Homo sapiens: one gene and its partners. The protein of the gene in region 1 interacts with the protein of each later gene in a biochemical or structural test. Each region holds a gene or a part of one and is shown in the gene's direction. Other genes may lie near its edges.

What was found. The genes of interacting proteins can lie anywhere in the genome.
Region 2: the proteins of LY9 (region 1) and SH2D1A interact in a biophysical measurement, tested with the Homo sapiens proteins (one study listed by IntAct).
Region 3: the proteins of LY9 (region 1) and INPP5D interact in a biophysical measurement, tested with the Homo sapiens proteins (one study listed by IntAct).

What each region holds. Positions count from the first base shown.
Region 1 is NC_000001.11:160,790,825-160,800,174, forward strand, and holds the start of LY9 (T-lymphocyte surface antigen Ly-9 isoform a precursor), read left to right. Parts: upstream 1-5,349; 5' UTR 5,350-5,363; coding exon 5,364-5,487; intron 5,488-6,285; coding exon of another isoform or gene 6,286-6,451; intron 6,452-8,861; coding exon of another isoform or gene 8,862-8,928; coding exon 8,929-9,258; intron 9,259-9,350. UniProt on the Homo sapiens protein: Self-ligand receptor of the signaling lymphocytic activation molecule (SLAM) family.
Region 2 is NC_000023.11:124,370,545-124,374,698, forward strand, and holds the end of SH2D1A (SH2 domain-containing protein 1A), read left to right. Parts: intron 1-806; coding exon 807-847; 3' UTR 848-2,616; downstream 2,617-4,154.
Region 3 is NC_000002.12:233,063,324-233,071,379, forward strand, and holds part of INPP5D (phosphatidylinositol 3,4,5-trisphosphate 5-phosphatase 1), read left to right. Parts: intron 1-8,056. UniProt on the Homo sapiens protein: Phosphatidylinositol (PtdIns) phosphatase that specifically hydrolyzes the 5-phosphate of phosphatidylinositol-3,4,5-trisphosphate (PtdIns(3,4,5)P3) to produce PtdIns(3,4)P2, thereby negatively regulating the PI3K (phosphoinositide 3-kinase) pathways.

The sequences.
Region 1 (9,350 bases):
AGAGATGAAAGGAAGTGTCTGCAACCGTGTTGCTTACAGTCTAGTGGGAAAGAAAATTTATGTCAATAAAAAATAAAGTAATGCAGGTGGTTTTACTTTCTGGTTGGGTACAGTGTGTTGGGCATGAGGCTTTCTGGTTTGAATACTGCCTCTGCTGCTTGCTAGTTGTGTGACCTAGGCAAACTACCTGCCAATCAATGAGAGTTAGGAGTTCTCCTTTATAATTTATTTCCTTGAAGATGGTTTTTGCACATAAAAATTTATTCATAGGCCATATTGCTTTTAAGAACTCATATTCAATTTATTAAATAAATAAATTTAAAACCTAAGTCAGCCTTAAGTTCAGTTCAGCTTACAAATCTTACTGTTCTGCTTACAAATTAGGCAAATTTTAACTACCCTTCTTGAGGACTATTAATAAGATTTAACTCATGGCCAGGCATGGTGGCTCACACCTGGAATCCTAGCACTTTGGGAGGCCGAGGCAAGTGGATCACTTCGAGCTCAGGAGTTCGAGACCAGCCTGAGCAACATGGCGAAACCCCATCTCTACAAGAAATACAAAAATGAGCCGGGCATGGTGGCTCATGACTGTGGTCCCAGCTACTCAGGAGGCTGAGGCTGGAGGATCGCTTGAGCAGGGAAGTAAAGGTTGTAGTGAGCCGAGATCGTACCACTGCACTTCAGCCTTGGTCACAGAGCAACATCCTGTCTCAAAAGTAAAATAATAATAATAATAATAATTTGACTCATTTTACAAATTTATAAGTTGATTCCCTTATTATTCTAACTTATAAATGTAATATATTTAGTTTTGTTTTAAAGTATTTTAATCAGCAAATAAACTTCCCAAATACTTAAAGGCTTGTAAACCTAATACATTAAACTTCTAAGTGTGGTCATTCTTAAGTTGTCTTAAATTATTCAATTCTTCATGTAAATTAAGATTTCCAACTAAAATCACAAATGCACAAATGTAAATCAATTGCATAGTTTAAATCAGAAACACAAATATCTCAGTTCATTCTGGCTGCTATAACAAAAATATCTTAAACTGGGCAATTTATAAGTAGTGGAAATTTATTTCTTATGGTTCTGCAAGCTGGGAAGTCCAAGATCAAGGTGCCAGCAGACTCTCGGTCTGGTTAGGGCTCACTCTGTGCTTCCAAGGTGGGGCCTTGTTGCTGCATCCTCCAGAGGAGATGAACACTGTCTTCACATGGCAGAATAGTGGAAGGGCAAGAAAGGGCCAGATAACTCTTTGAAGTCTCTTTTATAAGGGCATTAATCCCATATATGAAAGCAGAGTGCTCATGACTTAATCATTTCCCAAAAGGCCCCACCTCTCAATACTATCGCTTTGGGGTTTAAGTTCCAACATATAGGACAGGCACAGTGGCTCACACCTGTAATCCCAGCACTTTGGGAGGCCGAGGCAGGTGGATTACCTGTGGTTGGGAGTTCGAGACCAGCCTGGCCAACATAGTGAAACCCTGTCTCTACTAAAAATACAAAATTAGTCAGGTGTGGTGGCACGTGCCTGTAGTCCCAGCTACTCGGGAGTCTGAGGCAGGAGAATCACTTGAACCCAAGAGGCAAAGGTTGCAGTGAGCTGAGATTGCACCACTACACTCCAACCTGGGTGATAGAGTGAGACTCCATCTCATTAAAAAAAAAAAAGTTTCCAACATATGAATTTTGGAGGGACAAATACATTCAAACCGTGGCAACAAAGTTTACTACAATTTTAATGAACTAAATTTCCTCAAACAATACATATACTTAAAAAATACTAACTGATTACCTTGAACATGTCTATTTTGTATTCCTTATTTTCCCAGGATTGAAAGATTCATAACCACAAAAGAAACAATTATGTCATCCCATTTACAGCCATTTCCTGGGGTACCTTCTCAATTAGCTAAAGTTGCTTAATGACCAGAAATATCACTGACATGTTAACTAATGGTATTACCAGCACCCCTTTTTTTTTGAGGTGGAGTTTCGCTCTTGTTGCCCAGGCTGCAGTGCAATGGCACAATCTCGGCTCACCGCAACCTCCGCCTCCCAGGTTCAAGCGATTCTCCTTCCTCAGCCTCCCCAGTAGCTGGGATTACAGGCGCGTGCCACCACACCCGGCTAATTTTGTTTTTTTGTTTTTTGTTTTTTTTTTTTAGTAGAGACGGGGTTTCACCATGTTAGCCAGGATGGTCTCGATCTCCTGACATCGTGATCCGCCCGCCTCCGCCTCCCAATAATTTTGTATTTTTAATAGAGACAGGGTTTCTCCATATTGGTCAGGCTGGTCCTGAGCTCCTGACCTCACGTGATCTGCCCACCTCGGCCTCCCAAAGTGCTGAGATTACAGGCGTGAGCCAATGTGCCCAGCTGGCAGCACCACTTTTTGCTTGTTTTGTTGCTACCCTCTAAAAGGCTGGTCTCATAGCCTATATCCCTAGATTCCACTTGAACACTGTGACATTCCCTAATTCTTCCCTCTACTGTGGCTGCAGCAGTTGATTTGATGTTGAATTTCTTTAGCTCCTAACATATATTTGTCTTTCCATCTAAGTGTAAAAAGCTTTGAGCTTGTCAAAATTCTACAGTCTTTCATATTCTTCCAATCTGTAGTAGCATATATATACTGCAAGTCAAGACAACATTAGAAATAAAGTCCAAAAAATGCAATTGTGTAAAATGCAGGGTCGTCTTAATTGCACAGTGAATGAAGTGTTGGTTGGGGGCTGGTGGTGAAGCAACACAGCTGAGTATGTGGTTGTGGCTGCCAGACCCAAATCTCAACCCAGGCTGGAGTCTGATGCTACCTGGAGGCAATGCCCAGTTGACAGGGGTGATTCTGGGCCTGTAGCTGGCGGGACTCCAAGGACAGTAGCAGGGATTTCAAAAATTTTCCAGTCAGTCACACCCACTTGCTGGGGTGGTTGAAGTATACTGAGAAGGACAACACTGGAGACGCCGGGGCCAGCATCACTGGATGTTGCTCCCTGATTCCCAATGCTAGTGCCTTTGCCTCCCTGTCCTGATGAGAATATTAGCCCTCCCCATGTGAGGACAGGGCACACTTAACAAATGCATCATACCAAAATTTATATTAATTTAGGTTTTACTATACTTAAATGATAATACTTAAATTGGATTTTGTGTATTATAAGGCTGTGTCCTCCTATGGTCACAACTTCAAAGGAGGTCATTTCAGTGATGTTACTTTCCTAAATCTCAGTTTTCTCATCTCTAAAATGGGGATAATTGGAGTATCATCCAAATAGGGTCTATCTTAGGATTAAAGGAGAAAACATATGTAAAGTTCTAAACACAGAGGCTCACTCATAGTAATTACCCAATAAATGTTAGTAATGATTTTTATTATTACCAATCTCTCTGAATTCCCTTCTGCCTTTGCCCTCGCCTCCCATGCAGACTGTTCCTGCTCTCATGTTCTGTACCCAGACTCCTTCAATAGCTTCCGCACCTGTCTTCTCATCCCCAGGCTCATCCCTTCCACCCATTCTCCCTCCACTCTGCAGCTCCAGGAAGCTTCCTACTCCTACTGGATTCTTGTTGCCTTTAGCTTGGTAACAGGATGCTTTATCTGGGCTCTGGTAACCTCTCCTGACCGTATGTCCTGCAATCCCCTCTAGACAGCCCATGTTCTAGTCACAGGACCAAGGCTAGAGTGAAACAAGACACGCTCCTAGTGCACAAAATTTAAAGATTTTCGAGATTCTGTCACTTTCAATATTGTGCAACATCAGATCATGACCAGCCTCTAAAGATGCTTTCCATGGACATAAGCCTGTTATCTTAATGGTTTCTCTCTCTCTCTCCCTTCTTCCTTTGAACCCAGACTTCCTGGGTTCAAGTCCTTACTAACTATAAAACTTATAGTAAGCTATTTAACCCCTCTCCACCTCAGTTTTCTCATTTATAGAATGGGGATGATAAAAGATATCTCATAAAACTATTGTAAGATCAAATGAGTGAATATGTTAAAGTGTCAGAAGATGGACTAGCACTCTGTAAGCTTTCATCGAATATTAGCTAAAACTACACATTCTGCCAGCCTCAAGTTTTCCTGCCAAGTCCCCTTAATGTTACAGCCTAAGTAAACAAATGACCTGAAGCCCGAAACACAAACCATAGCATGGCCAGCTATTACGCTACTGACAAGAAGAAGGAGGAGAAAAAGACAGTTTCCCAAGTCAGGATATAGGGAATCATGCCATTCTCCAGCCTACCTTTTCAACTCAGTCACCTCTACGCTGTCACATACGATGTCCACCCCCATTGCAGTCTCCCTGATGCCTTTGTCCATATTAAAAGTCCTTCATTGCATGTGACAGAAAGCTAGCACAAACTGCCTTGAGCAAAATAGAAAATGTATTGGGTCACTGTATTAGTTATCTGTTGCTGTGTAACAAATTGCCCCAAACTTCACAGCTAAAAACAATAAGCATTTTTGATGAAAAATAAAAAATTGAAAAAAAATTTAAAAACCAAACATTTATTATCTCACAGTTTCTCTTGATAAGGAATCTGGGCATGGCTTAGCTGGGTGCCTCTGGCTTAAGGTACTCACACAACTAACATCACGGTGTCAGCCAGGGCTGCAGTCATTTCAAGGACCTCCTGGGGAGGATCCACTTCCAGTCTCACTCATGTGATTCTTGGCTAGCCTCAGTCCTCATGGACAGTTGGCCAGAGGAATCAGCTCCTCGCCGATTGTTGGCTGGGGGCCTCCCTCTGTTCTTTGTTTTGGAACCCTCTCCCTAAAGTATCTCACAAAACAATACCTGGCTCCCCTCAGTGTAAGGTAGGGAGACAGAGATAGTGGGAAAGACAGAGAGGGAGAGAGGGCAAGAGAAAGAGAGAGCGCATATGCACACACATGCTAACCCAAGATGGAAGTCACAGCTTTTTTGTAACCTAATCTCAGAAGTGACCCATCCCACATCTCTGCCACATTCTATTCACTTGAAGCAAGTCACTAAATCCAGGCCACACTAAAGAAGAGGTGATTACACAGAGGCATGAATGCCAGGAGGTACAGATCTTTAGCAGTCACCTTTAGGAGCCAAATTTAGAACCCAAGTCCCTTGATGTCAAAGCAAGTGATGCTCCACATCAGTCACAAATGAGGCCCTGAATAGACTTGGGACCTCTACCTGCCTGCGCAGATGGGAGGAGTCTGTGGTGTTTTGTATAAACAACCCTCCCTCTGAGACACACACACATACACATACACATGCACACACACACTCATATACACATGCAGAAGCTGTGACACGTGCGGAAGCTGTGGTAAGTGCATCCTCCTTCAGTCTCAGTTCTGAAAATAGATCATCATGGTGGCACCAAAGAGTCACACAGATGACTGGGCTCCTGGGCCTTTCTCCAGTAAGCCACAGAGGAGTCAGCTGCAAATATTCTCTTCTGTTCTACAGACCTCTCTCCTCTTCCTGCTCATGGGTAAGTCCACTTTATGGCCACCACTTCTTGCTACTGCGGTTCTTCTGAGGCCAGTTGCATTCCCTGCCTGGGAGATTCTTTTTTTTGTTTTTTGTTTTTTTTAACGGAGTCTCACTCTGTTGCCAGGCTGGAGTGAAGTGGCGCAATCTCGGCTCACTGCAACCTCCACCTCCTGGGTTCAAGCGATTCTCCTACCTCAGCCTCTTGAGTAGCTGGGATTACAGGTGCATGCCAACACACCCAGCTAATCTTTGTATTTTTAGTAGGGGCAGGGTTTCACTATGTTGGCCACGGTGGTCTCGATCTCTTGACCTCGTGATCTGCCCAGCTCAGCCACCTGAAGTGCTGGGATTACAGGCGTGAGCCCAGTTCTTGTTGGTAAAATCGGGAAACTCATCTCCTTGCCAGAAATTACTTTGCATGTGTGCATATTCGTGCACTATGAAGGGGGTAACATTCTAGCCCCGGTCTCAAATAGCTCTGGGCTCAAACTACATTTCTCTTGCCCTCACATTTTCCTAAGAAATGCCAAGTATATAATGAGTTTGTTCCCTGTATGGTGTGGATAAAACCCACAGAGGGATCCAGGAAAATCCCCTGATGAGAAGCCACCTAGCAATTTCCTAGGGATGGAGAGAACTTCTGGAGCTTCTTTCTATGTATCCTGCCTTGGTTATCATATATGCTGGCTTTATTACTGAGGTTTCACTGGGGACCTGGACGCGGTTAGGTGACCATGGGCAAGGTGGCGTTTATCTGGATATCCTTTTCTCCTCAACCTTATTCCTCCCTATCAAGGCCCAACTCCTGGGAAACATCTCTCCGCTGCATGGCCCGGAACCCCACTGTCCAGCAGATAGAGCCAATCCAGTACCCCAGAGAGGATCTCAGCCACCTGGGACTGTGGCAGCTACTGTCCTTCTGTGCTCCCGCTTTCTCCAGGGCTTCAGGGATGATGGTGCAGGTAGCACTAGAGATCTGAGAGCAGTGGGGGTTGGCAGTTGGTGCCTGAAGGGAGCTTTAGAAACACTCCTAGATGCAGATATGGGTGAACGAGGAGCCTAGACCTCAGAGCTGAGGTCCAGTCTGACCTCTTTTCACTTTCAATTTTATCTTGGCTCATCAAAACACACAGAAAGCAGCAAGGCTGTTTATGTTTACCTCCAACCTTTGGGGTGTTCCTTGATTGTGTTGAGCAAACCTGAAATAAGCTACATTCAAGGTCATCCAAGCCGCAAATGATCAATGCAGTGAATTTCAAACAGTTCAGAGCAAAGAGGCATCTCCATTGGTCTGGCTCCACTGATTAGGATGACCTCAAATCTCACTCTTTTGGTCTGAAAGGATGATGCTTTTGTATCTCCAAAGAGTCATTTCAGGAACTTAAAAGGCAGTCGAGTGAAAAGACCCCTCTCACTTTAGTATCAGGAACATCTGAAATTAAATCATTGCTCCATCATTTATTAGTGATGAGGGCCTCTATTTCTTAAGTGTAAAATATAGTTAGTAGGATGCATCATGCAACACTCTTACAGATTGTAGATGATCTATACACACACACACACACACACACACACACGTATAGTGGCACATAGTTGGCAGAAGCTATGATTGTTATTATTATAATTACTGTTACGTGCATTCTTTGGAAACTATTAAGAGACAGGTGAGTCAAATTCAGTTTTGCAATCTTTGAATGCTCTTTTATTATTTGTCCTACGGTGCAATTCAAAATAAAATGACTGGTACTGGGGACCTGTCATTGTACTGGGAGCTGCATTGCACTGTCTTCTGCAACAAGATTTGCCCTGTGAGGCCCACATCCTGCCCCCTCCACTGAGAGTCTGTGAGGCTTTTGTTTATGGTTTTTGTCTGATGTAAGAAAATTTGAAGTCAAAACGAGTCATATGCACCCAGTCAAGACCCAGCAGCTCCTGGGCTTCCAGGATACAGATGGGCAGTACTCCTGGCCTCCCTACTCCAGGGGCATCATGGACATAGGATCTGGACTCTGTGACTGATCAACCCTGTAATCTCAGGGAAGTGGATTAAATTCTCTAAATTTCAGCTCCTCATCTGTAAAAAGGGGCTAATTATAGTATAGTTATGAGAATTAAATGAGATAATTTACATAAAGTACCTAATGCACACATAGCAATCGTAAGCAGTCTCTTCCAGATGGGAAGAGCTCTCTTTTAGAAAACCTCAAACCAACCTCACATCAACTCAGCCTGAATCTGCCTAAAGAATCCACCTGACCCAACCTTCTCATGTCCAGGATCCCTAGCCCTGCATGCTCCATAGCTGCCTCTCCACAAGGTGCAAGTGCTTGGCTGATGGAGGTCTAAGCAGAGAACCCCCATGACCTGCACCAAGCAGCCTCTCTCCTTCCAGTGTCTGCATATTCTGTATCCTCTGGGTTTTCAGAGCTTGCTTCAGCTTTCTTCCGCCCCTCCAGGCTATGCTTATGCTCCTTTTTTGTCTCTAACATTTTCTACTTATTTTCCCACCCAGAATTCCTGGTGGAGTCTGGGTCCCAAACCCATCTGTTTTGGTCTAGAATTTCAAAAGTGCTCTCCAGAGCCTCGGAAGCCCTGGAATCTGGGAATCCAAGCTAGGGTCACCCAGAAGACACCCACAGGGTCCCTACAAGAAAATTAACTGCCTTGGCCAAATACCAGCTTCCTAGATGCCTTGGTAACAATGTTTATCAGGAATATGATCTTGCCTAAGATGAGGAAATCAGGAACTGTATTAGTACCACCAGCTATTCCCACCCCCAAACCTGGCCAAACCAAAGTCAATCTGAGATGCCATGGACAATAAGGGTGAGGTAGAGGTAGGAGAAGCTCCTTTAGTTCCCGACACTGCTATGAGAGTTCTCAAACATTCAGAAAAGTTGGAGCATTTACCCTGAACATTCATAGGCCTACTACCTAGATTCTAACACAAACGTTTTACTTTGCTTGCTTTATCACTCGCCTGCCCATCTAACCATCCCTCTACCCACCCATATTTTTAAAAATATGCTCCTTTTTACTTCATTGGCTCTTCACAATTTGCAGCAACCTGCTTTCATTTCATTTTTACCATATCCCTTGAAGAAAATGGTGCAGGTATGAGCATTTCAATCTTTTAGATAAGATTCACTGAAAAATTCAGAAATGTACCCAAAGTCACAAGGCTAATTCCTCTACTGGAACAGAAACCCAGAAGATCTGTTTCACAGATTGTTGTGGCTGCTTTTAAGGGAGACAGTGTTTGGGGAATGGAGGAATTAATGACTGTGCTAGGCAATTGACCTAGAAGAAGGAGGACAAGAATCTCATTTCATTTCTCAGCATCTGACATTTATGCCCAATGTATATTCACAGAGTGAAAGAAAGAAGGCTAGCTCAAGGAGTCTAGCTGCTCCTCCAAGTCCCTCTTCTATCTCTGCAGGACTAAGAGCCTCTGGAAAGGACTCAGCCCCAACAGTGGTGTCAGGGATCCTAGGGGGTTCCGTGACTCTCCCCCTAAACATCTCAGTAGACACAGAGATTGAGAACGTCATCTGGATTGGTCCCAAAAATGCTCTTGCTTTCGCACGTCCCAAAGAAAATGTAACCATTATGGTCAAAAGCTACCTGGGCCGACTAGACATCACCAAGTGGAGTTACTCCCTGTGCATCAGCAATCTGACTCTGAATGATGCAGGATCCTACAAAGCCCAGATAAACCAAAGGAATTTTGAAGTCACCACTGAGGAGGAATTCACCCTGTTCGTCTATGGTGAGTTCCAGAGAGCTTCTGTGTTTTGATCTTTTCTTTTTTTTATTTGTGCAAATTTATGGGGTATGTGTGAAATTTTGTTATATGTATAT
Region 2 (4,154 bases), on another chromosome or scaffold:
CCCATAACATTTTAACTGCTCTTGTCTGTCTCATCTTGTTCTTTCCTGTCCCTTTAATAGGTAGCTAAGTATGATTTCACTTCACTAATTCAGACACAAATAATGTGAAAGATGGTATAATTCAGAGAACACCTGGGCTGTCCTTTATCTTTGCTTAGTAAACTGTTTTTTCCTTCAGGGACATGAAAGCTAACGTTAGCCTGGCACACATGATTCTGATTTCTGAATTGGTGGTGCTTGAATTAATGACATTTTTCTGAAGCAAAGGAAATTAAATAGTGCACTTTATTGTTCCACTGGCACATATTGTTACATATCCTGAGCAAACCTATTTTAGTGTATGTGTCGTGCTAAAGACTGAATACCAGCCAATGTCTGTAGCTATCTGATACGTGACTGTTTACTCCTCTATTGAATGGGGTTTATCATTTGTTTGGAGTAAGAGGATAGGCCTTGATTGAAACAATAAATATTTATGATAAAAGAAAACGAGTCCCTTTTTGACAGGGACCTAGGCTCAGGCATAAACTGACAATTAGACTCAAGTGGTGAATTAAATTAATGAATAGTTAGCCTTTATAATACAAATGCAAATAGAGCTCTAATTTCCAAGTTGGCTAGTTGTTTTTTTCTGCCTAATATTCCATTCTTTATAACTCAGTTTTAAATAATAGTTGCTTGAGGTATATTACTGTGTTGTGTCATTGTGAGTTTTATGCAGTTGGAAATTTTATAAGTTTGAGTTAATCTGTAATTTTAATAGTTTGTAAGTTTATTTTTTCTTGATTTTTGTTATTTTTCTTTAGGGATAAGAGAAGATCCTGATGTCTGCCTGAAAGCCCCATGAAGAAAAATAAAACACCTTGTACTTTATTTTCTATAATTTAAATATATGCTAAGTCTTATATATTGTAGATAATACAGTTCGGTGAGCTACAAATGCATTTCTAAAGCCATTGTAGTCCTGTAATGGAAGCATCTAGCATGTCGTCAAAGCTGAAATGGACTTTTGTACATAGTGAGGAGCTTTGAAACGAGGATTGGGAAAAAGTAATTCCGTAGGTTATTTTCAGTTATTATATTTACAAATGGGAAACAAAAGGATAATGAATACTTTATAAAGGATTAATGTCAATTCTTGCCAAATATAAATAAAAATAATCCTCAGTTTTTGTGAAAAGCTCCATTTTTAGTGAAATATTATTTTATAGCTACTAATTTTAAAATGTCTTGCTTGATTGTATGGTGGGAAGTTGGCTGGTGTCCCTTGTCTTTGCCAAGTTCTCCACTAGCTATGGTGTCATAGGCTCTTTTGGGATTTTTGAAGCTGTATACTGTGTGCTAAAACAAGCACTAAACAAAGAGTGAAGGATTTATGTTTAATTCTGAAAGCAACCTTCTTGCCTAGTGTTCTGATATTGGACAGTAAAATCCACAGACCAACCTGGAGTTGAAAATCTTATAATTTAAAATATGCTCTAAACATGTTTATCGTATTTGATGCTACAGGATTTGAAATTGTATTACAAATCCAATGAAATGAGTTTTTCTTTTCATTTACCTCTGCCCCAGTTGTTTCTACTACATGGAAGACCTCATTTTGAAGGGAAATTTCAGCAGCTGCAGCTCATGAGTAACTGATTTGTAACAAGCCTCCTTTTAAAGTAACCCTACAAAACCACTGGAAAGTTTATGGTTGTATTATTTTTTAAAAAAATTCCAAGTGATTGAAACCTACACGAGATACAGAATTTTATGCGGCATTTTCTTCTCACATTTATATTTTTGTGATTTTGTGATTGATTATATGTCACTTTGCTACAGGGCTCACAGAATTCATTCACTCAACAAACATAATAGGGCGCTGAGGGCATAGAAGTAAAAACACCTGGTCCCTGCTCTCAGTTCACTGTCTTGTTGGACGAGAAAACAATAACGATAAAAGACAGTGAAAGAAAATAACGATAAAAGACAGTGAAAGAAAATAACAATAAAAGACAAGGAAAAAATAACAATGAAAGTTGATAAGTACATGATAAGCGAGGTTCCCCGTGTGTAGGTAGATCTGGTCTTTAGAGGCAGATAGATAGGTCAGTGCAAATACTCTGGTCCATGGGCCATATGAAAAGGCTAAGCTTCACTGTAAAATAATAACTGGGAATTCTGGATTGTGTATGGGTGTTGGTGAACTTGGTTTTAATTAGTGAACTGCTGAGAGACAGAGCTATTCTCCATGTACTGGCAAGACCTGATTTCTGAGCATTTAATATGGATGCCGTGGGAGTACAAAAGTGGAGTGTGGCCTGAGTAATGCATTATGGGTGGTTTACCATTTCTTGAGGTAAAAGCATCACATGAACTTGTAAAGGAATTTAAAAATCCTACTTTCATAATAAGTTGCATAGGTTTAATAATTTTTAATTATATGGCTTGAGTTTAAATTGTAATAGGCGTAACTAATTTTAACTCTATAATGTGTTCATTCTGGAATAATCCTAAACATATGAATTATGTTTGCATGTTCACTTCCAAGAGCCTTTTTTTGAAAAAAAGCTTTTTTTGAATCATCAAGTCTTTCACATTTAAATAAAGTGTTTGAAAGCTTTATTTACCTAATTTGTCTTGAAATATTCCTTATAATTCCTTATAAAATATTCAGAGACTGATGCTATTAATAAACCAAATAAAGGATTGATGATTATCTTATCGGAGTGATTCCCTGGAAAAGGTAAGTGCTTTTCTGATTTTATTGCTGTCCAAGTTCCCGGTTGATGAGCCTACTTCCTGTCTTCTTTGGCTGGCCTTTTATTCATCAAGTTTTTTTTTTTTTTTTTCACCTTTTCTTTCCCAACATGAGCATCCTTGCTATTTTCCAGTACGTAATCACTTGCACCTTTACAGAAAGGTCATATCCTTGCTGTATCTAAAATATTGCCATGCTAACATATTGTAAGATGCTGAGTCAAGGTAGAAAAATGCACAATATATTTCCAAGTGTGCAGCTCTCTTCAGAAAAAAAAAAAGTGTGTCAGCAAGCCCAAAAGGAACATGACAGCTTATCAAATACTTATTCATTTCCTCTGAAATTTGTTCTTAAGAGATAAGGTCAGTAGGGAGACAAGCTTAGGTAATTGTCTGTTTGGCTGTTACAGGCAGGGAACCTTTGTGGTAGTGCACAGGTAGAATAAGTCTATAGAGAATGCCTCTGATTAAGTCCTCTGCTATAAATAAAGGGCTGGATTTAAGATATTCTTTCGGGTAGAATGGACACAGAATTAAAAATGTGAGAAACAGCTTTAAACTCTGTTAATAATGTTTCAACATCAGCTTATGTTTTATTTGATTCACTTCGTTAAGCTTAGAATCCAAAGTCTACTACTAGTAAAACCCAGATTTGCCCTTGAGCATTTCAAGGTTATAGGATGCCTGGTCTTCCTGTTAGGATGCTATACATTCAACTTTGACACCTATGTTTTCTCTTGCAGTAAATGGGATACCACTATTTTGTAGTTTGCAACTAGGGGGGAAGTTAAACTACCCAGTTTGGACATTTTCCTAATTTGGGGTGATTGGCCAAACTTGTAGTAAAAGGCTGAATTCTTATCATTAGGTCATTTAGTTCTTAAATGAAGATTTTTTTTTTAATGTAGCAAGATATAATAAGGCTGACTAACTGGATAGAGTCCATTAACATATATGGAATTGAGATATATATATACATCTTGGTTGCACACATACACGCAGAAATAGAACTGTTTTCTCACAAGATGACAAAAGGCTATACTACGTATCACATTCAGTATTGGACAGAGAGAGTAAAAGCAGGAATGCATAAGAACTGATTTTTTTTTCTTTTTCTTTTTTTAGTCACCTGGTGGGCCATTTAAACATTTTATTTATTTATTTTTTAATTTTTATTTTACTTTAAGTTCTGGGATGCATGCGCTGAATGTGCAGATTTGTTACATAGGTTACATGTGCCATGGTGGTTTGCTGCACCATCAACCCGTCATCTAAGTTTTAAGCTCTGCACGCATTAGGTATTTGTCCCAATGCTCTCCCTCCCCTTGCCGCCCACCGCCTGACAGGCCCCAGTGTGTGATGTTCCCCTCCCTGTGTCTATGTGTTCTCATTGTTCAACTCCCACTGTTTTT
Region 3 (8,056 bases), on another chromosome or scaffold:
ATCCTGCCTGGGCCCCAGCAGCACTCCCTCCCAGGCCCCCTCTGGTGGGCAAGGGGACAACGGCCGGAGTCTCCACCTGATGGTTTGGGCAAGTGTGCCTGGAGTCTCAGGAACTGAGAGCAGCCTCACCAGGGAGGGGCCTTTGTGCTCAGGAAAGAGAACAGGATTTGACTATGTAAATGGACTTGAGCGGGGGTTGGACATCAAAAGACAGGGCTACAGTTCAGTGCCACCCATGTGACTTAGGAGTGCACATTCTGCGCACACCCAGCAAACCCTGCATTTCCTCGAGAGAGGTCAGCCCCGTCACCTACCACTGGGCAGGAAAGCTTTGATCTCACCTCAGCAGCTTGGAAAGCCCTGCTTGACAGGGAGCCTGGGCTCCATCTCGGGGCACAGACAGTTGCAGTGGGAAGACTCCAGCAGGTGGCTGCCTGGTTTGGGTCCAACTCTGCCGTCTTTCAGCCAGGGGCTCTTCTAAGTAGAGCCTATGTTGTCCCCACCTGGTCCCCACTCAAATCCCCCGGCAGAGTTGGCCCTGCTCCGGGGGGAGTCTGTGGGTGCCTCCAGGGGACGTTGGGTACATCGTGGGTGGGAGACATTAAGAGCTGTCAGGCTCATGCCCTCTCCTGCCACGCAGGGGCCAGCACACCTGGCAGGGCCTTATGCTGCAAAGAAGAGATGCCTTGGGAATGGGGTCAGTCAATGCAAGGGTCCATGGGTTGGCCGAGCCGGCATCCCCTTGTGCAATCTGCACAGGCAAAGCTGATCAAAGGCCCAATGTCAGTATATAGGCTGCCCTCTCTGCAGGAGCAGCTGGGGCCCGGGATCAGGCCTAGAGTGGCCGGCTCAGCTGTCTGCCATCCAGCCTGGAGTTGCGCAGGAGGGCGGCGTTCCCAGCCAACCACTCCAGAGAGAGGGGGCTTCCCTCATGGGGGAGGCGAAGGCACGTGGCTGCCTTTGGCTCAGAACCCAGTGCCTGGTCTGGCCACAGCTGACAGTGTGGTTTTGGTTTCCCTCCACATGTGGCCTTCCACAGGCCACCCAGGCACCATGGCAGGGTCTTGCTTACCCCTTCCCAGGGGCAGTGTAGACAGTGCACCGGACAGACCTGGCTTCACCAGCAGAAGGTTGTTACCAACCTGCTCCGCCTAATAACAGCAGGCAACTTCCAAAGAGCTCTGTGCCAGGCACCATTCTAGGCTTATATTGACTCATTTGATGTCCACGAAGACCTTCAAAGGAGGTCTTATTATCTCCACTTTACAGATGGGGAAACCGAGGTGCAGAGCGGTTTATGGAACAGGCCTAGTTTACAGGACTAACAAATAAAAGGGCCAGGATTGCATGCATGATCTTCCTGGAAGCGAGAAACAGAGACCATAAGGTGGCCTGTGTGGGGCGGGGCAGAGCCTGGAGAGGGAACTTCTCGTGATGGAGCCGCAGAGAAGGGACTTGGGAGGGCGAAACTCCTAATCTCAGAGAGTCCAACAGAGTTGGAAAGCTGTGGTGTGAGCGGGTGGCTAAGTCTCCCTTTCGAAGCTTCAGTAAAATAGACACTGTTAATTGTTTTTGTGCAAATGCAATAAGGCACTATTTTTCATATCTGATATTGACAGTCAGTGGGAAAAAATGCTGGCCCAGGTCGTAGCCAGAGCTACTGACATCTGGCTCACACCAGAAAGCCGGCCAAGGGGCTTTATCCAAGGCTGACTGTGCCGGGTTTTCTCTCTGCATGCAAGACCAGGAAGGGGTATGTGCCCTGGAAGGCCTATGTATTTCACTCACTAACTGTATCTTCCATGTGAAGTGACGCAGAGCAAGCATGTTAAAATGGAGTCTCCAGGTTTTCTGTGCCTACGCTCAGCCCCCGTGAAAAGTCCTTTCGGGTCCAGAGATTAGGCTCCAGCTTTGATGCTTTGCATGTTTGTCTACCTGGTAGGTTAAATTCATAAATTCATGAACACAATCAGCACTTCTTGGGTTTTTTTTTTTTTTTTTTTTGACAGAGTCTTGCTCTGTCGCCAAGGCTGGAGTGCAGTGGTGCAATCTTGGTTCACTGCAACCTCCGCCTCCCAGGATTAAGCAATTCTCCTACTTCAGCCCTCCAAGCAGCTGGGATTACAGGTGCCTGCCACCACACCGGGCTAATTTTTTTTTTGTGTTATCCTCAGGTGATCTGGCCTCTTTAGCCTCCCAAAGTGCTGAGATTACAGGCATGAACCACTGCACCCAGCCTTTTTCTTTCTTTCTTTCCTTCTTTCTTTCTTTCTTTCTTTCTTTCTTTCTTTCTTTCTTTCTTTCTTTCTTTCTTTCTTTCTTTCTTTCTTTTTTTTTTTTTGAGACAGAGTCTCGCTCTGTCGCCCAGGCTAAAGTGCCATAGCATGATCTTGGCTCACTGCAACCTCCACCTCCAGGATTCAAGCAATTCTTCTGCCTCAGCCTCCTGAGTAGCTGGGATTACAGGTACCCACCACCATACCTGGCTAATTTTTGTATTTTTAGTAGCGATGGGGTTTCACCATGTTGGCTAGGCTGGTCTCAAACTCCTGACCTCGTGATCCACCTGCCTCGGCCTCCCAAAGTGCTGGGATTACAGGTGTGAGCCACCGCACCTGGCCTTTTTTTAAAATTATTATTATTTTATTTTTTATTTTTGAGACACGGTCTTTCGCTGTTGCCCAGGTTGGAGTGCAGTGGCACAATCACAGCTCACTGCAGCCTTGCTTGATCAAGCGATCCTCCTGCCTCAGTTTCCCGAGTAGCTGGTATTCCAGGTGCAAGTCACCAAGCCTGGCTAATCTTTTTTATGTAGAGACAGGGTTTTGCTATGTTGCCCAGGCTGGCCCCCAACTCCTGGAGTCAGGTGGTTCTCCCACCTTGGCCTCCCGAAGTGCTGGCATTACAAGTGTGAGCCGCTGCACGCAGCCTCACATCAGCACCTCTCAATCAATTGGTGCCATCTCCCTGCACATGAACCCTTGCGTCATGATGACATGTGGTCCTCACAGCCAGGCATTTCTCCCCACCCCAGACATAGAGTGAGAGGAGCTCTGCTCTTCCCTCAATAATTCGTGCCATGCTGTGCACTCCTGAGGAGCAAGGCTCTGTGGTCTGCTGGCTCTGCTGGGCTGCATTTGCAAAATGCTAACCTTCCTGTGTCAACCCAGCATCTTCACAGGTGGAATGAGGATGACAAGGCCAAAGCCCACTCGTTGGGTTATTTTTTCAAATTGAGGTATAATTCATATTCCATACAGTCACCCTTTCTATGGTGTACAATTCTTAATTTTCTTTTTTTCCAAGACAGTCTTGCTCTGTTGCCCAGGCTGGAGTGCAGTGGCATGATCTCGGCGCACTGCAACCTCTGTCTCCCGGGTTGAAGTGATTCTCCTGCCTCAGGCTCCTGAGTAGCTGGGATTACAGGCGCATGCCACCATGCCCGGCTAATTTTTTTTTTTCTTTTTGAGACAGAGTCTCATCTCACCCCTGTTGCCCAGGCTGGAATGCAATGGTGTGTTCTTGGCTCACTGTAACCTCCGCTTCCTGAATTCAAGCAATCCTCTGCCTCAGCTTCCCAAATAGCTGGGATTACAGGTGCCTCCCATCACACCCAGCTAATTTTTGTATTTTTAGTAGAGACGAGGTTTCACCATGTTGGCTAGGCTGGTCCCGAACTCCTGACCTCAGGTGATCTGCCCGCCTAGGCCTCCCAAAGTGCTGGGATTACAGGCGTGAGCCACTGCACCTGGCCCTGGTATACAATTCTTTATCGTGCTTTTAGTGCATTCACAATGTTGTGAAACCAACACCACTGTCTGATTCCAGGACATTCTCAATACCTCGAAAAGAAAAGAAACCCTGTACCCACAGCAGTCACTCCCTATTCCCTCTCCACCCAAACCCTGGCAGCAACTAAATGACTTTTTGTCTATGGATTTATCTTTTCCGGATGTTTCATAACTGGAAACATACAACATGTGGACTTTGGGGCCAGCTTCTTTCACTGAGCACAATGCTGTCAAGCTTCATCTGTGTTGTGGCATGAATCACTCCTCTCCAGGGCTGACTAATGAGCCACTGTATTGAAAGAACCACATTTTGTTTATCCATTCATCAGTTGACAGGCATTTGGGTTGTTTCCACTTTTGGGCTATAATGAATAATGCTGTGATGAACATTCATATACAAGGTTTTGTGCAAACATATATTTTCAATATTCTTGGGTCTATATCTAGGAGCAGAATTGCTGGGTCATTTAAGTCTAACACTTTGAGGAACAGCTAAACTGTTTTCCTTGGTGGATCCACCATTTTGCATTCCTACTAGCAACATCTGAGGGTTCCAATGTCTCCACTTCCCTACCAGCACTTGTTATTATCTTTTTTATTATAGCCATCCTAGTGGGTGTGAAGTGATGTCTTATTGTGGTTTTAATTTGCATTTCTCTAATGGCTAATGATGCCAAACGTCTTTTCTCATGGTTAATGGCCATTTGTATTTGGAGAAAAGTCAATTCAGATCCTTTGTACATTTAGAAAACAGGGTTGTTTGTCTTTTCCTTGTTTCCTTGGGTTATCAAGAGGACAAAATGGAAAGATGTGAGTGACATTTACAGCCCAAGTCCAGGCATGTGGTAAGCACCCACCGAATGCTTTGCACACATAAAAATCATGCTGGTGCTGGGCAAGGTGGCTCATGCCTGTAATCCCAGCACTTTGGGAGGCCGAGGTGGGTGGATCACCTGAGGTCGGGAGTTCAAGACCAGCATGACCAACATGGAGAAACCCCATCTTTACTAAAAATACAAAATTAGCCTGCGATGGTGGCATATGCCTGTAATCCCAGCTACTCGAGAGGCTGAGGCAGCAGAATTGCTTGAACTTGGGAGGCAGAGGTTGTGGTGAGCCGAGATGGCACCCTTGCACTCCAGCCTGGGCAACAAGAGTGAAACTCTGTCTCAAAAAAAAAAAAAAAAATCATGCTGGTGATCAGGTGTGGTGGCTCACACCTGTAATCCCAGTACTTTGGGAGGCTGAGGCAAGAGGATCATGAGGTCAGGAGTTTGAGACCAGCCTGGCCAACACAGTGAAACCCTGTCTCTACTAAAAATACGAAAAATTTAGCTGGGCATGGTGGCGGGTGCCTGTAATCCCAGCTACTTGGGAGGCTGAGGCAGGAGAATTGCTTGAACCCAGGAGGTGGAGGTTGCAGTGAGCCGAGATCGTGCCATTGCACTCCAGCCTGGGCGACAGAGCTAGAATCCGTCTAAAAAAAAAAATCGTGCTGGCAATTAGTCTTTATGAGCTAAAAGTGACTAGTGACATCTCAGAAGCAGAGGAGTACAGGACCCATCTGTGAAGAACATTCCATACAGAGGAGAGAAGAGAATGGGGGCAGAGGATTGCTTAGGAAACTTCCTGGAGGCCTCTGGGGGATGCTGAGTTGTCACTTGAGGCCTCCTTGGAGGAAGCACTCAGAGAGATGGAAGCAGGAAGAGGACTGAGTGATGCCCCTGTGACGGAGGCTGCTGGGGACAGGGCTGGGAGCCTGGAAGCCAGCAGGAGGAAGGGATGGGGGCACAGAGGCACACAGAGTGAAACCAGGGGCAATGAACATGACATCAGGAAGAAAGGCAGGCATCTGAAGACCACTGGGCTCCAATTGAGGGGGTGGGTGCAGAGGGTACTGAAGTCCTGGGGCTGAGGACGATGGAAGGAGCACAGCATGTTCCATGACGGGGGTACTCAGGCTTGACAGGTGCGGCAGCACGTGGGGACCAGATTCTCTCCCCTGCTCACTTCAGGCTCCTGTTGTCCCCTTTCATTAGGAAAACACGATATTAACAAGTGCAGGCCCCTAACAGTTTGGGTTCAATACTTACTGTAAACAACCCCACGGAGGGCTGTCCCCGAGAGATCATTTGGGACCTCCCCGGAGCAGAGAGGCTTGCTGGACCACACAGCTGTCAGTGGCAATGGAGAAACAAATAGATCTGATAAACAGCAATGTCCTGTTCTTTAGAGTCACTTTAAAAAATGGTATTTATACAAAGCACAGAAAGTACAAAGCAAAAAGCAGAAAAGTAACCACCCCATCACTGAGACACTAGAATAACCATTGTTAATTCACTGGTGTATCTTCTTCTTCTCTCTACCTCCCTGTATGTATGTAATTTCCATTTTGTATATACATGTATTACATGTATATGTATAATTTTAGTCTGAGATTTCTAGCAGCATTAGCATTTTCCCATTTAGTTAGAATTTCTTCCTAAATATCATATTTTAATTTTAGTCTGAGATTTCTAGCAGCATTAGCATTTTCCCATTTAGTTAGGTTTTCTTCCTAATGATCATATTTAATGGATGTACAGGATTCTATTACATGATGTGCGACACTTCATGAAATGATTCTTCTATTATCAGATATTTAAGTTATCAACAGCATTTTGTTGTTATAAATATGACTGATGAAGGTCTTTTGCAGAAATGTTATAAACATGTCTGGTTATAGATTCCGAGGAGTGGAATTACTAGATCGAGGGACAGGAATGTTTTTAAGGCTCTTGATACAGAATGATACATTGCTTTCCAGAAATTTTTTTCCATATATGCACCAGTAAGCTGTACAAGAGAGTGCCCGCCTCATTCTAACCTTCCTATTCTGAATATTTTCATTTCAAAACACAATACATTGCAAGGTGAAGGTGGTGAATGTTCATTTTGATTTGCATTTGATTGTGGTCACGTTGAGCTTATTTGATAGAGTTATTGACCCTCATAATCCCTCTTTCGTGAATGGTCTGTTCAATTCTCTTTGCCATTTTTCTATCGAAGCTATAGTTTTTCTGTTATCTACTTGCACAAGTTTATATCACACTTGTTGCAAATATTTTCATTGTGATTTTCCTTTAAGTTTTATGATTTTTTTTTGACATTCAGGGACTGTAAATTTTTATATAGTGAAGTCTCTCAGTCTTTTCCTTTTTTCTCCCTTCGCTTTTCAATGCAGAGAATCCCTCTGCACACAGAAATTCACTTGTTTCTTCTTGTACAAGGCAGGTGGGTTATGACAGAGACTTTGGAGCTAATAGACTTGGGCTAAGGATTCAGCAGGTTTTTTTTTTTTTTTCGAGATGGTGTCTCTGTCTGTCACCCAGGCTGGAGTGCAATGGTGTGATCTTGGCTCACTGCAAACTTCTGCCTCCCCAGTTCAAGTGATTCTTCTGCCTCAGTCTCCCGAGTAGCTGGGATTACAGGCTCCCGCCACCATGCCCAGCTAATTTTTGTATTTTTTAGTAGAGACGGGGTCTCACCATATTGGCCAGGCTGCTTTCAAACTCCTGACCTTGTGGTCCGCTCGCCTCGGCCTCCCAAAGTGCTGGGATTACAGGCGTGAGCCACCGCGCCCGGCCAGGATCCAGCAGTTTATTTAATTCCACTGGGCCCTGGTTCCCCTTTCGAAAACCAGTGCTAAGAATACCTATGTGGTAATGTTGTGGGGCAGATTGGATGGAAAATATGTATCATGTTTTTAGCACAGTACTTGGTAAAAACAAATGAAGCAGTTATGGGTTTTTTACTTTTGTTTTTGTTTGTTTGTTTTACATTGAACCATTTAATCTCTCTGGAATTAATTTAACAAATGATGCAGGATACAGATTTAGGCTGGGCACAGTGGCTCACACCTGTAATTGCAGCACTTTGGGAGGCCGAGGCGGCCGGATCACCAGAGGTCAGGAGATCAAGACCATCCTGGCTAACATAGTGAAATCCTGTCTCTACTAAAGATACAAAAAAAATAAAAATAAAAATTAGCTTGCCGTGGTGGTGTGTGCCTATAGTTCCAGCTACCTGGGAGGCTGAGGTGGGAGAATTGTTAGAACCCAGGAGGCAGAGGTTGCAGTGAGCCAAGATTGTGCCTCTCTACACTCCAGCTTGGGCCACAGAGTGAGTCTCTGCCTCAAAAAAAGGAAAAAAAAAAAGATTTATGTGTATTTTTCTCAGCTAATCATCTTTCCCAAAACCTCTTACTGAATAACATTCCTTTACCC